Regions from separate parts of the Homo sapiens genome. Here region 1 is linked to region 2. A link means that fine-mapping ties the variant in region 2 to the expression of a gene that starts in the linked region. Tissue or cell type: whole blood. Region 2 holds a variant in brackets; the other region holds the start of a gene. All regions are shown on one strand. Distances are from middle to middle.

Region 1 (8,332 bases), 24 kb after region 2:
GAATGAAAGGCTAGGGAAGCCATACAAAGCCAGATGCTGTTACCCTCCACCTCCTCCTGGGATGACTTTGGGGATGACTCACGTCCTGCTGCCCCCTCACTTTCTCAGCCTAAAACCACACATCCTGGACTGTGCGGGCAGCGAGCTGACCCTTCCTTTTCTGCTGTAGGATCTTCATTACACAAAGTTCCTGAGTTTCCAGCAAGTTGCCTTTCTTCCCTGTTTAAGAGCTGAGAAAACTGGGCCTTGGGGAAAGCGAGAAGTCCCAGTTTAAGTCACCAGAGACGTCTTCCTAAAGAAGTATTCAGGATGCTGTGCTATCCAGAAGCTGGCTCCAGAGACACCTGGACCATTTCAAGCTCTAAGAACTGTGCTTCTGTTCCCTCTGCCTGGCTCCTATGCCATATCACACCCACATGTGTGAACTCAAAGCCAAAGGGAAGAGACCAGGCCATGTGCAGCCAGGACAGAGGCATGTAAAATCTAGAGAGGGTGGGCCAACCTCCCATACTCCTGTGTTGGCGGAGAAATAGACCCACCAGTTTGTCTGGCACAACCAAAACTCAGCTTTCTTGCCATGGGATGCTGGCCTGAGACCAGTCACAACCAGTCTCAACCAGTCTCCATATCAGGGCTTGGCTGTCTGGGTGCTTTCAAGCACCCTTCCCCCACCTGGATCCCAAGCATCCCTTGGACTCTGCCAGGACAGAGCCACAGATGCCGGGGGAAATGGGAAATGACTGGAGACACAGAGGACAGCCACATTCAAAGCTGGTGGGAAAGTGGTGGTGGTGACATGTGGCCCTTGCCTGAAACATTATTTTGAATTTATTTCCTGTAGGAATTGACTACAGGTGGGTTTTGTCTTGCAAGATAGGTTTCCTTTCTTGAGAAATCTCAAGAGAACAGAGTTTTCAGTAACTCTAAGACACGGTTAGGCCACTGCAACAACTTTATTTCTGGAGAGAACATGTGCTCTGGCTTCCTGCCTCTTCCTACTCTGGGGAAACTGGGGCCAATCTCGAAGACTGATCTCCTAGAAATGTCCTTTTTTATTCCAACAGGGTTTGATGCAGCTCAAAATACAGGCTGTAAAAGCAACAGAGTTAATAAAAAGGAGGGGGAAAGAAGGAGGAAGTAAATGTGTTAAGTGCAAATAAGAGTTGGCACCTAGGGCAATCATACTTGCCTCAGTACTTGCTGGCATCCTGGGAAAAGGCACTTACAATCTTGAAATTTGTTAGGTTCTTCGCAGCTTTAACTGCCGCTTCCTTCTCTGTGCCTCCGTTTCTCTGTCTATAAAGTAAGGGGAAAATACCTCATCTGAGATTTATTGAGAGCATCACCTGAGATAATCCATGCAGAGCACCTGAAATAGTACCTGGCACACAGTAAGCATTCAACTGCATCACAGATATTATTATTATTATTATTTTGAGATGGAGTTTTGCTCTTGTTGCCCAGGCTGGAGTGCAATGGCACGATCTTGGCTCACCGCAATCTCCGCCTCCCGGGTTCAAGTGATTCTCCTGCCTCAGCCTCCCAAGTAGCTGGGATTACAGCCATGCACCACCGTGCCCAACTAATTTTTGTATTTTTAGTAGAGACAGGGTTTCTCCATGTTGATAGGCTGGTCTCGAACTCCCGTCCTCAGGTGATCCACCCGCCTTGGCCTCCCAAAATGCTGGGATTACAAGCTTGAGCCACCATGTCCAGCTACAGGTATTATTATTACCTCATTCATCTGGGGATGGGGAGGGCATTGGTGGGTGGAGAGGAGCTGGTTCTCCTTTACTCCAAGGCTCCTACCTTCTCTTCCCTGGATGTTCTCGCCCCTGCTCCCATGCAAGTCCTCACAGACGGCCTCTGAAGCCGCCTTTGTTCCTGGTCTGGTTCCACAACGTTCCCATGCCCACTTGAGCTCCCTCTACTCCAAGTAGACTATTTCCAGGATGAGTACTTCAAGTACATCGAACAGTGACCTCAAATGCATTTCCTTGACTGTGCCTCTCTGAACTAAAAAGTGCAGAAATGTCATTGCTTCCTTCTTTTGTCTGGTCTTCCACAGGGCTAGGTTGGGATCCGGGGGGAGAGTAGCTTTCCTAGCTCTCAGCAGCTCAACTCCACCGAATTAGTGAACGATGGACATGTCCCCAAGAGGACTCTAAACCCACAGTCCCCAACATGGTGTTCTGCAGCATGCCACAGGTCATCTTGTTCTGTCCTCTCTGAGGGTGAGGTTGGAGAGGGACCCTAGGCTCACAGGCTCAGTGACAGTGACTCACCAAAGATCCTGTGGGCAGTCAGGGTCTGGGCCAGGCCAGTGAGCCCATTCATATGGCATGAGCCACAACACTGTTCCTCTTCCTCCGGCAGCAGCCCGTTTTGCGTGTCCCCTCACTATGAGCCGTGGGAGAAATTTGAAAGGGCTTGGATCAGAGGGCAGGGAGAAGAGGGTGGTCCTGACATCTGACACATACTTCATTTTAAACATGGGCTATGTATGACAGGCCTTCAGCTAGTTATTGAACAAAGAGAATAAGAGCCCTTTTACAAGGGCTTTACATATATTCATTCATTTGGTCCTCACAACAGCACTGTGAGTTAGAAGTCTCAATCTCACCCCTTTACAGATCAGGAAACTGAGGCAGATAATTTATTTGCCTATGGTCACAGGACTAGTGAGTGACAGAGCAGGTGGTTTGGTCTTACAGTCTATGTGTTTAACCACTACACCAAACCACCTCCCTAAGATGCTAGAGGGGGTTTGTGCCAATGCCTGGATTCTAAGAGATTAGATTCTCTTTAGGATCTCTGACCTGTTTCCTCAGCATTCAGAGATAAGGCCAGAAACAATGCCATTTGTGCACGAACTGACAACTGACGGTCCTCCTACCTCCTATTTCTATTTAAAAGGCACTGTAACTTCTTTCCACAGGCAGATCCCTACCTCTCCTCCCTTAGGGGAGGACGAAGGTGTCCCAGCCAAGGAAGATCCTGGTCTCCAAGGGCTGTACCCTACTGATCCGGAGGCAAAGCAGTGAGGGCCCACCCCAATTCCTCACCTCCCATTCTACTCTTCGGCAGAAGCATCTCAGTGTTGGAAAGATAAGGATTTCTTCCTAAAAAGGAAGGATTACACTATATCAGAGTCTGAAGATACAGTTTTCATTTGCAACGCAAGGGAATTCCTTTGAATCTCTACCTTATGATTTCCCTGCAAACCCACTCCGATGGGGCTGGAGAGTGCTCTCTCACTCAGATGAATCTCTCAGGGGTTGTCCAGCAGGTGTTTGCCAACTTGAAGAGCTACCTACTATCACAGACCTATAAAAGTACGCCTGTGGACAGACTGAAAACAAACAAACAAAACACACACACAAACACACAAAACAACCGCACACTGGGAGAAGTTCTAGGCAATTTCCTTGCAAATAACTGCTTTGAAAATTACTGTTTTAAATTGGCAGAACACTAAGGACTTTGAACAGATCATCCCTTTTACTCAATGTTTTCATAACCTTGAAGTGAAGGTGGAGGGAGCAGTACGTTTTAAGGTGCCAGGATTACACTACGGGGTCAGTGCTCCCGGATATGAACTTTCTTTTTCAGACCGACCTTGGGACCTACAGCTTTGTAAGTTACTCATACAACTCCATCAAATGTTACAGGTAGGTCAGAGGACATTCAGGTTGTTTAAGCCTCTATAAATGACTCAGGCAGCAACAATTTACAACGTCTTTGTTTCTGCTATGCAGTGCCCTCCTGCTAGAGATGGCAAAAATGTGGGGAGGGCTTCAGAGCATTCTAAGCCTGGTATTTCTGGCTGGAATTTTTAAATCTCACTACAATCCTGACAAGAGACCACGACCTTAATCTCCCACGGCATGACTGGTTAGTCTTGATCGTAAGCCATATAATCAACACCCAAATGTGCATAACACATCTAAATAATGTCAAAACTACACTATATACCACGCAGGGGACCAGAAATCAATCTTTACCTCAAAAGGATAAGCTTCCAGGATGCAATAACATCCCCTTCCACCCTTTTCTACACCCTAAAACAGTAATATTCACGGTAACAGCAAAGCGGAAATCAGCTTTTCCTGAACATGTACTGAATTCTAGTCACATTCACACACGTTAATTCATTTAATTCCAGCCACAAGGTAGGCAGCCTCTGTTAACATTTTACAATTGTGAGAACGCAGAGATCTGGGACTGGCTCAAGGTGACACACTGCAGCAAGGAGTCAGAATTTGAATCCGAAGCAGTGTCCTTCCCCCTCGCAACAGCTGCGGCGTTACAAACACAGGTCAGCCACGGAGAAATTAATGACCCACAGCCATCCTTGCAGCTCTGCGCCATAACTGGGGAGACAAGCTGGTTCCCGTGACTCTTCAGTCTGTTTTCACCCAAGTGCATGACTGCGGGAGCAAAGCGACCACGTGAGCATCCCCCCCCCACCCCCCCGCTTCCCCCAGGCGAGGGACAGTGCCAGGCCAAGGACAAGTCACAGGTGCAACAACGTGCCAGAACTGGATCCGGAGCCCCAGGGCGCAAGATCTCCCGCAGCGTCACCCGGCAGAGGGACGGGTGTGGCCACCGGGCGCGGCAGGTCCTGCGTGCGCTGAAAGTGCGGCTGGAGGCGCGGACGGCTTTCCGGAGCCCCGAGAGAGGAGCTAGGAATGACTTTGGTCGCAGCCTCTGTAACCCCGCATGACGGCCTCTAGGGGGACAGCGAGGTCCCCCTCGATCTCTGGCTGTAATCAGCCGGCGGGGCCAGACGGTGCCGAGACTCCAGGGCGAGGCCGCAGGGAGGGGGCTGTCCCGCCCCACGTGGACCGGCTCCCCGCTGGGGGCGTGGCCGCCGAAGCGGGCCGGGCCAATGAGCGCCACCGTCGGGCTCACCCGGCTGGGCACGCCGGGCCGAGGAGGGCTGCGTCATGCCGGGGGCGGGGCTTCGGGGCCGGCGCGAGGCGCGGCGGGGTCACGCGGGTCGCTGCGCGGGCTATAAGTAGGGGCCGGCGGGGTGCTCCGCTGGAGTGATGGCTGCCGGCGCTCTCTGCGTGGTTCTTCTTCTCGGCCGCTGAAACCCCCGCGGCTGCTTCCTGGGAAGGTCGTGAGTCCCGCTGAGCTGTCCCCGGTGCCGCCGACCCGGGCCGTGTGCCCGTGGCTCCAGCCGCTGTCGCCTCGATCTCCTCGTCTCCCGCTCCGCCCTCCCTTTTCCCTGGTGAGTAGTGGCGCCGCCTCGTAAAGGCTCTTTCTTCTCCCCGGGGCCGGGCGCGGACGCCGTGGCGCTGGAGGCGGACGCCGTGGGCGGCGCGGCTGGCTTCTCTCTTCGCCGCTGGCCGCCTCCACTCCGCCCGTCTGCCCGCCCGCGGGCCTTTTTGGCGGTCCCCGGGCGGCGCGCGCGGGAACGGCCCTTTTCCGATTTTCGCGCGGAGGGCGCGCGCGGGCTGGCAGCGCAGGGGCTGGGCTGGGCGCGCGCGGGCCGCGGAGGACCCGGAGCCACGTGCCTCTCCTTCTCGCGCGTCCTACTGGGGATGGGGGTCTGGAGTAGCCGGCAGAGGCTATTGCGGGACCCCGGGCGCGTGGGTAGAGCGGGGTGCCCCACTGGCCCCCCAGGGGCACGCAGCTATTGTTATTTCCCCCCTCCCCCGCAGGATGAACTTGCGTCCTTTCTCTTCTCCGCCATGGAATTCTGCTCCGTGCTTTTAGCCCTCCTGAGCCAAAGAAACCCCAGACAACAGATGCCCATACGCAGCGTATAGCAGTAACTCCCCAGCTCGGTTTCTGTGCCGTAGTTTACAGTATTTAATTTTATATAATATATATTATTTATTATAGCATTTTTGATACCTCATATTCTGTTTACACATCTTGAAAGGCGCTCAGTAGTTCTCTTACTAAACAACCACTACTCCAGAGAATGGCAACGCTGATTACCAGTACTACAGCTGCTACCGCCGCTTCTGGTCCTTTGGTGGACTACCTATGGATGCTCATCCTGGGCTTCATTATTGCATTTGTCTTGGCATTCTCCGTGGGAGCCAATGATGTAGCAAATTCTTTTGGTACAGCTGTGGGCTCAGGTGTAGTGACCCTGAAGCAAGCCTGCATCCTAGCTAGCATCTTTGAAACAGTGGGCTCTGTCTTACTGGGGGCCAAAGTGAGCGAAACCATCCGGAAGGGCTTGATTGACGTGGAGATGTACAACTCGACTCAAGGGCTGCTGATGGCCGGCTCAGTCAGTGCTATGTTTGGTAAGTTCTTTTTATGTTTTGTCCTCTTCGTGGTGGGTGAGCAAATTTGTATCATGGGTGGTTCCATTTTTGTGCATAACCTTTCCGATTAACCTTTCTGAATGTGCCACTTACATAATGGAATTTTGATATTTACTTAATAAAACTTTACTATGTTTCAGGTTCTGCTGTGTGGCAACTCGTGGCTTCGTTTTTGAAGCTCCCTATTTCTGGAACCCATTGTATTGTTGGTGCAACTATTGGTTTCTCCCTCGTGGCAAAGGGGCAGGAGGGTGTCAAGTGGTCTGAACTGATAAAAATTGGTATGTTTAATTCCAAACGGCTTCTTAATTTTCGTTTTCGTCATATGTTACCATGGCATTAGGTATGGGAGGATGTGTTCTAACGTCGAGGGACAGACCCAAGAATTTTGAACTCTTAAACATTTAAAGTGGTTTTTGGTTTCTGATTTTCATTATTTGATATTTTTTCTTAATGTGTTCTATTCCAGTGATGTCTTGGTTCGTGTCCCCACTGCTTTCTGGAATTATGTCTGGAATTTTATTCTTCCTGGTTCGTGCATTCATCCTCCATAAGGTAACCTTTCTCCCCCGTATGAAGACCTTTCATGGAGCACACCCAATCGATTTCAAACCCAGTGGTACTTTTGCAGATGTGATTGGTGTATAGGTATGCGGCCTTGGAAAATTTTAAAAAGCTCTTTGTTCTGTGCATTTCTTGTATGTTGTGGAGTTCTCTGAAAGCGAGTTTTTAATACTCAAGAGGGCAGTCAGGAAGGAAAAATTGAATACTATGATGTGCCAAGAAGTAGGAGAAACTGGGAGCAAAAAAATAAGGAAATTTATTTTGCGTGGTTTTGTGTAGCTGTATACACATTATTTGTTTAAACCACTGTTATATTCAGGCTAATATAATACGTAAACTTGGAGTTCAAGACAGTGTCCCCTGTGGCTTTTTTAACTAAGCTGCCAGTTAAATGGGTCTCTGCCGTGCTGATTATCATAACCAGTTTATAAGCTTCTAGATGAGGACTCTGCCTCCCATAGTGACTTGACTCCAATTTCTCAGAATAGTTGAAAAGAACCAGTTAAAGGTAGTTTTTGGCCCGCCCCCCAAAAAAACTTCAGGCAGCCATTTAATTTCCTGTCCATTTGAAAATCCCTTTTAAGTGACCCAGTTTGCATTTCTTTTATCAAGAAGTCTTGCTGGCTGCAAAATAAATGTTGACAAGGGATTATGTTGGCATAGGACTGAGTTACAGTGAGGATAAATGCATTTTTCTCAGGAAACAAAGTTGTCCTTTTTCTAAGGTGAATGGCTCTTAACAATCCATTGTAAGTTCTTAAAAGTGTTCCTAAACTGTAGAAATCTGAGGGAGATAGCATAAATCCCAGCAGGTAAGAATGTATTCAGACCCACTTGTCTGGTCTAGTTGTAAGCTTCTCTAGGGAAAGATTTGTCTCTTCTCTGTAGAAATTCTATGACTAGTAAAGTGATTCACTAATCACTGTTTTCCATAGCCAGAATCTGGCAGAATATAGCAGTTTAACACTTTGAAAACTTGAAATATCTTTAGCCTGGTATAATATGAGAGTAAACAGTTCATTGATATTTATGGACTCCTAAGTTTGGTACTGTTTTATTCAGCAGACAGGTACGATAAGCATCTACCTTCCCACTCCCTACAACTGTAGTGTATGATACTGGGATGCTTAAATTAGAGGCTCACCAGTAGTCATGGACCAGATTTTTTTGTTTTTTTTAGAGTTTTCATTAGAACTGTATATCTTGCTACTTAGCAGAGAGTCAGAAGCATTAGTAGGATCTCCTGTTGTGAATTCCTGCTTGGTAAAGGTTTATGCTGGCCCTGTGTTGATTATTGAGTAGCAGATCATTTTGTTTTTGGAGAGGGTTTGTGTGTTTCACCTCCACAAAACACTTATTCCCCGGAAGGGGAATGGTGGTGCTCTGAGGTGCAAAGAGGGATTCTCAGGTGCCCAGAACCTCTCATTTGAGGAATGCATACCCCCACGGTGTTATTGAGGGCTGAAGTTAGATACGGT
Region 2 (8,332 bases):
TTGAGATGAAGTCTTGCTCTATCCCCCAGGCGGAGTGCTTTGGCACGAACTAGGCTCACTGCAACCTCCGCCTCCTGAGTTCAAGCAATTCTCCTGCCTCAGCCTCCTAAGTAGCTGGGATTACAGGCACATGTCACCATATCTGATTAATTTTTCATATTTTTGGTAGAGGCGGGGTTTCACCATGTTGGCCAGGCTGGTCTCGAACCCCTGATCTCAAGTGATCGACCTGCCTCAGCCTCCCAAAGTGCTAGAATTACAGGCATGAGCCATCGAGCCCAGGCAGGAGGAGCTATTAAAAGTTTGTCAGCAGGGTCAGGAGGGGTAAGACAGATTGAGCAACACAAGGAAGTTTTGTTATTTTTTTTAGGTAGTGGAAGGGGACCAGAGATACCAGCAATAATAGGATAGGAGAAAGCAGGAAAGAAACCTAAGTGTCCAGAAAATTATCTTTTTTCTGATGTCTTGGGCAGAAGTTCTCCACTTCTAAAGTTGGAGGTCCTCGATTTAAGGTCTCTCGATAGAATGGGAGTAGTAGTTAGACTGAGGGCAGTGGTGATAGCCTGGACAACATGACAAAAAGATTCTGAGATGACAGGCCAAGCCAGGTGTTCTGCAGGCAAGAGCCAAGAGAGATCTAGAGTGTTCCTTCACCACCATCCTGGGCTTTTGATGTTTTTTCATGGCCATGAGATAGGTATAGCTAGTCCCTGCAGTCCTCACTCAGTCTAATACACACCATATGGCTGAGTTTATTCCTAAGCAGTGCAGCTTTGTGTGTGTGTGCGTGTGTGTGTTTGCAACTTGTGCCATCTAGAACATCTTCCACTCCCTCACATAGTGTGCCATGCCGGGACCACTTTGGGAGTCGTCACTTCATACTCATGATCAATATCATCAGTATCTATAATTGCCCAGATCCAGGAAGCATAACTGGACAGTAAAAGCAGCATCAGGTTAGGCTGGGCATGGTGGCTTATACCTGTATTCCCAGCATTTTGGGAGGCCGAGGCAGGTGGATCACGAGGTCAGGAGATCAAGACCATCCTGGCTAACATGGAGAAACCCCGTCTCTACCAAAAATACCTAAAATTTAGCCGGGTATGGTGGCAAACGCCTATAGTCCCAGCTACAGTCCCAGCTACTCGGAGGCTGAGGCAGGAGAATCTCTAGAACCAGGAAGGCGGAGGTTGCAGTGAGCCAAGATTGTGCCACTGCACTCCAGCCTGGGCGACAGAGCAAGACCCCGTGTCAAAAAAAAAAAAAAAAAAATGCTGGGCGCTGTGGCTCACACCTGTAATACCAGCACTTTGGGAGGCCAAGGTGGGTGGATCACCTGAGGTCAGGAGTTTGTGACCAGCCCGGCCGATATGGTGAAACCCCGTCTCTACTAAAAATACAAAAATTAGCCGGGCGTGGTGGTGGGCGCCTGTAGTCTCAGCTACTCAGGAGGCTGAGGCAGGAGAATTGCTTGAACCCAGGAGGCGGAGGTTGCAGTGAGCTGAGATTGCGCCACTGCACTCCAGCCTGGCGACAGAGTGAGATTCCGTCTCAAAAAAAAAAAAAAAAGAAAAAAGCAGCATAGTTTGGTTTCCCCAGGGGTGAGCGTGGGAGGGAAAGGAGGAATGAAGAAGGAGAGTATATTGTGTTGGTTTGGGTCTCTTACAGACAGTCTGGGCCTCCTCCCCGACTCCTCAAACTCACACAGATTCTATTTAAAAAGGAAGTTCCCTTTTGGGGTATTGGCACATTTAGAATCCATATTGTCTGTTTTAAGTGTGTACTCTACTGAGAATTGAGCTTTGGTTCTCTATGTACCCTTTTTAGCTTCTCCTTTAAGCATCCATCTCTCTCTCTCTCTTTTTTTTTTTTTTTTTTTTTTTTGACACCGGGTCCCATTCTGTCGCCCAGGCTGGAATGCAGTGGTTCAATCACGGCTTACCCTGCAGCCTCAACCTCCTGGGCCCAGGTGATCCTCTCACCTCAGCCTTCCCAGTAGCTGAGACCACAGGGGTGTACCACCACACCCGGATAATTTTTTGTATTTTATGTAGAGACAGAGTTTCACCATGTTGCCCAGGCTGGTCTCAAGCGATCCACCTGCCTCAGCCTCCCAAAGTATTGGGGATACAGGTGTGGGCCATGGCGCCCAGCCTCATTCCATCCTTTTATGGCATCTATTGCCTGTGGGTGATGAGGGTCCTGAGATGTCCTGGCAATGTCCAAGGTGGTTGGCCAGTGTTGGGTACTCTTGACTATAAATGCGCATCATTTGATGAGATACATTCAGGGAATCTCAGTATGTAACACAGGTCATCTGCGAGTCCCTAAATTTATGTTACATCTACCTCCTATCTGTGGTAAGGACCTACATTGCCATGCCATACCCAGAAAGGTGCCTACTGTAGGAAATGCTTAATTGCATCCCCAAGTGGAGCATTTAGGAGGTTATGTAGCCTATTTGCCAGGACTGGCCAGAATCTGGTGTCCTGAGTTTATATGTGCCCTGGAGTTTTCTTTGCCCCTTGACTGACAGGCTCATTTACCAGACTTCGGTGGCTTCCTGTGCTGGAGTCATTCATCTTTGCTTTGGGTCCCAGTCCTGCACTGTAGACAGAATGTCGTGGCCTCTGTGATGATGTATTCAGTTGTCCTTACCTGGAAGGCACAAGTCTGATTGGGTTTTGAATTCCACTCATGCTATTTCTATGGACATCCACATCCATAAAACAGAGGGCAGTGGTGTAGTATTAATAAAATCTGAGGCTGGGTGCGGTGGCTCATGCCTGTAATCCCAGCATGGGAGGCTGAGGCGGTGGATCACTTGAGGTCAGGAGTTCGAAACCAGCCTGGTCAACATGGCAAAAATCTCATCTCTAATAAAAAAAAAAAAAAATAGCCAGGCATGGTGGATCACCTGAGGTCAGGAGTTCAAGACCAGCCTGGTCAACATGGCAAAACCCCGTCTCTACTAAAAATACAAAAAAAAAAAAAAATTAGCCAGGCACGGTGGTGCAAGCCTATAATCCCAGTTACTTGGGAGGCTGAGGCAACAGAATCACTTGAACCTGGGAAATGGAGGCTGCAGTGAGCTGAGATCGTACCACTGCACTCCAGCCTGGGCAACAGAGGGAGACTCCATCTCAGAAAAAAAAAAAAAAGTCTGATACCATAATGTTCACTGCCATAGGGATTGAGACTTGATCATTTAGTCTTGCTTCCAGGCACAGGCCCGCACTGCCAGCCCATTGGCTACCGTCTCTAAATCAATGAAAAAGCAGCAAGGAGCATTTTGGAGGGGTTTTTCAGGAAAACCACCACTGTCCCCAACTCTGTCCACTGGGTAGTACCTTTTTTTTGTGTGCAAAATTTTAAACAGCTTTTGTTTTCCCCTGTGGCTGCACAGCTGCAAGGGCCAAGAACAATCCGCCAGCCTGTAACTTAGCGGGCTCCATCTGTGAACCAGCTTCAGGCATCCTCAGGGACTTGGTGTATCAATGCCTCCATGAAGCTGGAGGTGCTGGCACAAAATGTTCCTCTGGGATCAAGGGATGTCTGGCCATCTTGTAATGCCATTATGTGACTCTTTTGATGCCTGATGACCCCATTCTACAGAGTAGCCAGTCACTGGCACTTGTAGCTGAAAAGGATCATTAGAGCTAACTGGCCTGAGCAGAGTGCAGTCTGTACAGTCTGCCGGACACTGCTTTTTTTTTTTTTTTTTTAAGATGGAGTCTCACTCTGATGCCAGGCTGGAGTGCAGGGACTTGATCTTGGCTCACTGCAACCTCCACCTCCCGGGTTCAAGCGATTCTCCTGCCTCAGCCTCCCGAGTAGCTGGGACTACAGGCACACGCCACAATGCCCAGCTAATTTTTGTATTTTTAATAGAGATGAGGTTTCACCATGTGGCCCAGGATGATCTTGATCTCTTGACCTCGTGATCTGCCCGCCTCGGCCTCCCAAAGTGCTGCGATTACAGGCATGAGCCACTGTGCCTGGCCTGGACACTGTTCTTAAGCACGCTGGACCCTGCCAGCTCTTTTCCTCAGTGCAGTGGTCTTTTCCCCGCCTGTACTGCTTCACCCACACCACATGGCTGGGCTCAGGGAGCCCAGTGGGTCCTGGATGTGCTCTCATCCCACTAATGCTGTTCTCACTGTAGCATTTTTCCAAAGGCAACATCACTTGCCATTATGGACAGAAGTATTACATATCCTTAGAACAGGCTGTGTGTCCCTACACTGGGAAGGGTGCATGACCTTGGGTAAGACTGTTCCTGTGGGCCAAGGACATTCTTGGAAGAGGTTTCACCTGTGAATCATTAGCAGTCCATACTCTAGCAGCTCATGGAATCACTGCTTAGGTCCTGATGGGAAAT[T/C]CTGAGAGGTATCCAAAGGTTCACTACACATTGTAAAGTCGTAGATGTGGAGCCCACACTGCCACCATAATTAAGGCTGCGGCAGGTCTTTCCACTACCTTCTGTGAAGCTGCCTGCTGCTAGGAGATGTGGCATGTAGTAAGCAGGAACTCCATAGCCATGGCCCATAGCTTAACATCTTTTATCATGAAAACATGCCCATGGACAAATAATTTGTATGTAAGACATCATTGCAATTGAATAAGCATTTGTAAATCTATGAATATATGGTGCTGGAGGAAGTGCTGTGGGCGGGATAAGCAAACCCATGAATATGTTTGTGTTAATCCACCTTCATTCTCCACCAACATTTGCCTCTTGCACTGACCAAATAGGTGAGGTAATAATGGTGTTATGGAAATCAGTAGCCCTGCATCTTTCAAATCTTTATGGAACTAATTTCTGCAATGTCATCAGGCACAGAATTGTTTTTTTTTTAACAACTGGTAATCAATTTATTAAAATAGTTGACTTAAGCATCTGCAATGGTAACTTCCACCTCAACTCCTGGCTCAATACTGATGGAAGTAATCTGCTTAACAATCTCAGAAGGACTGTGCAAGTCAATGAGTCGCTTGTGAATTCTCATCTGGAAATGATCCCAGGTCTTAGAATCTTCACCACAAGTAGTTTTTCTTGTAGTGATTCTCAAAGTCTTGGCAGGCATTCGAACTGGTCCTTTCACTTTGAGATTCTTTTCCTTTGCGCCTCTGATTAAGTCATCACACACCTTTTCCAGGGATTTTACATTGCGGCTTGTTAGGGTGATTCGAATTTGGTGAATGGCCACCTCCGGCTCCACGGGTGTTTTCCGGTATCCTTAAAAGCCAAGGCTGCTGCGCGGCTTCCTGACCGACTTGTTCCTCGGCGAGAGTGAACAGCGGTAAGTCAGGAGCAGGAGCGTCTGAACGAGAAATCCTCAGCACCTACGACCGCGTCTTCCTCCACAGAATTGTTTTTAGGTTATTATCTTGGTTGTAGGTGGCCCTTTCAAGGATTCTAACTGGGCATTCCCACCATGACAGACCGCATTCCTCGGATAAGGACAGCAAGGCTGGCAAAATAGCCACACGGTGTGCCTGGGATCCTACCTGACCCACTGTGAGGTGGACTCTGGCCAAGACCTGTCTATCCCCTGACCTCCCTAAGCCTCTCTCCAATTGACCATAGAGATTCCAGGGATTAGGCTCAGATAATACCAGTATCTACACATGTGGCTTCCAGTAAAATGAGCACAGACTGAGATTACAGAACCCAATTCCTGGCCCTCTCTGCTGCTAAATATCTATCAGGAAAGATCCTCCCTGAGCTTGCTTACTCATCTGTAAGTTGGAGCCAAAAATGTTCTTTGGATCGTGTGTCATTTGTGCAGATGTGATAAGATTACACACGTCAAGTGCTTTACACATTGCCTAATAAGTACCATTCACCGTTTCTTCTGCAGAGTGTAAAGAGGAAGATAAATTATCTATTACTATTTAGCAGTATTTTAATAACTTTTATGCACTTTTAATTTATTTCCAAATTTTTTCTTTTCTTTTTTTTTTCTTTTCTTTTCTTTTTTTTTTTTTTTTTTTTCAGTAGAGACAGAGACTCTCTTTGCTGCCCAGGATGGAATGCAGTGGCAGTCATAGCTCACTGAAGGCTTGAACCTCTGGGCTCAAGTGATTTTCCTGCCTCAGCTTTCTGAGTAGCTGGGACTATAAGCATGCACCACCATGCCTTACTATTTCTTTTCTCTTTTCTTTTCTTTTTTTTTTTTTTTTTTTTGAGACGGAGTCTCGCTCTGTCACCCAGGCTGGAGTGCGGTGGCTTGATCTCGGCTCACTGCAACCTCCACTTCCCAGGTCCAAGTGATTCTCCTGCCTCAACCTCCCAAGCAGCTGGGACTACAGGCGTGTGCCACCATGCTCAGCTAATTTTTGTATTTTTAGTATATTGGTCAGGCTGGTCTTGAACTCCTGACCTCGTAATCCACCCACCTTTGCCTCCCAAAGTACTGGGATTACAGGGTGAGGCACCACGCCCAGCCACCTGGCTATTTCTTAAAAAAAATTTGTAGAGATGGGGTCTTGATATGTTGCCTAGGCTCAAATTTTGTCATCTTTTAGATAACAGGATTTGGGGCTGGGTGCAGTGGTTCACACCTGTAATCCCAGCACTTGGGGAGGCCTAGGTGGGCAGATCATGAGGTCAGGAGTTCGAGACCAGCCTGGCCAATATGGTGAAACTCTATCTCTACTAAAAATGCAAAAATTAGCCGGGCATGATGGCGGGCGCCTGTAATCCCAGCTACTCAAAAGGCTGAGGTGCGAGGAGAATTGCTTGAACCCGGGAGGCAGAGGTTGCAGTGAGCTGAGATTGTGCCATTGCACTCCAGCCTGGGCGACAGAGCGAGACTCTGACTCAAAAAAAAAAAACCAAAAAAAATTTAAAAAAAAATTAAAAAACAAAACAAAACAGGATTTAGGGATAAGAATTTAGGACTAAGTCAATTTTCTATGAATATTCTTACATGTCAAATTTCGAAGGCCCAGACTCAAATGACTTGATTCTTATTTTCAAATAATTGGGCTGTAAGATTTATCTGTTACTTCTTAACATATAATTTGTACACCTGTCTAGGATTTAACTTGGAAAAGATTTTTCAAAACTTGGTACGATTATATAAAATGTGTGCTTATGACCATAGCTGGTAGGCATGTGAGATGGTAAGGCATTTCCGCAGAGCAGAGGTTCATAAAAGCTTTATCATGCATCAGAGCTATCCGGAAGGCTTTTTAAAACACAGATTGCTCAGCTGGGCGCAGTAGGGTGCGCCTGTAGTCCTAGCTACTTGGGAGGCTGAGGCAGAAGGATCTTTTGAGCCCTGGAGTTTGAGGCTACAGCATGCTATGATTGTGCCTGTGAATAGCCACTGCACTCCAGCCTGGGCGGCCTAGCAAGACCCTGTCTCTAAAACAATAACATCAACTAAAACAAAAACCACGCAGATTGCTGGACCCCAACCTAGAGTTTCTGATCCAGTAGTATTGGGGTGGGGCCTGAGAATTTGCATTTCTGACAAGTCCCCAGATGATGTTGATCCTTATTCTCCTGGCCCATAGACCACTTAATTAAAGCCAGCAAAGTAGTCATCAACGTTGACCCAGGATATAAGCTGAAGATGATGAACAGCCTTGAGGCAGTAAGGGAGGCCTGCCCTCCAACATCAGGAAGCCAAGTGAAGGCGTGACTCACCAGGGCAGGGTGGGGTTCCTGCGTGTGAGAAACCAGAATTGAGAGCTGCACCAGCTGTGTGGCCCCAGGTTTCTCAGGGTGAGGAGAGGCAGCCCAGGGGAAAGGCACTCGGGACCACACCCCAACTCACCTACCCTGTGTAAGTTTTTTCCATTGCATGTATCAACATCTAACATGTCATATATTTGATTTACCTCATTTATTCTCTGACTCCTTGCCTCCTGTTAGAATATAGGTTCTCTAGAACAAGGATTTTTATATGTTTTATAGAAGAACAGTAACTGAATCATAGCAGGTGTTCAAATACTGACTGAATGCATGCCTATATACATATAACTATGTTCATGATACTGTTTCTAGAAGGATCCACAAGAAAATGGCAGCAGACTGTCTCTGGGCAAGGGAAATGGAGGAATGGGTGGGGCAACTAAAACTTTTTACTGACTCTATAGCTCTTTGAATTTTTCCTTTTTTTTTTTTTTTTTTTGAGATGGAGTCTTGCTGTGTCACCCAGGCTGGAGTGCACTGGCGCAATCTTGGCTCACTGCAACCTCTGCCTCCGGGGTTCAAGCAATTCTCCTGTCTCAGCCTCCCGAGTAGCTGAGATTACAGGCATGCATCACCATGCCCGGCTCATTTTTGTATTTTTAGTAGGGACAGGGCGGGAGTGGG

Evidence for each region.
Region 1: SLC20A1 starts here. The variant in region 2 is fine-mapped to the expression of SLC20A1 in whole blood (TOPMed, PIP above 0.99).

Annotation. Positions count from the first base shown.
Region 1 is chr2:112,640,894-112,649,225 of GRCh38, forward strand. It overlaps SLC20A1 (solute carrier family 20 member 1), which reads left to right and starts at 5,046. Exons shown (of 11, transcript NM_005415.5): 1 at 5,046-5,236; 2 at 5,670-6,269; 3 at 6,431-6,571; 4 at 6,760-6,845. The coding sequence starts at 5,936. SLC20A1-DT (SLC20A1 divergent transcript) reads right to left here and starts at 3,287. Exons shown (of 5, transcript NR_033871.1): 1 at 3,206-3,287; 2 at 3,066-3,122; 3 at 2,286-2,400; 4 at 1,190-1,296; 5 at 937-1,089. RefSeq lists enhancers at 1-739, 1-273, 869-2,068 and silencers at 4,708-5,537, 5,999-6,293.
Region 2 is chr2:112,616,917-112,625,248 of GRCh38, forward strand. It overlaps the pseudogene RPS20P11. Among named protein-coding and RNA genes, the nearest start is that of SLC20A1-DT, 23 kb to the right of the region's middle. RefSeq lists an enhancer at 7,564-7,703. The variant T/C (reference allele first, on the strand shown) is at 4,382.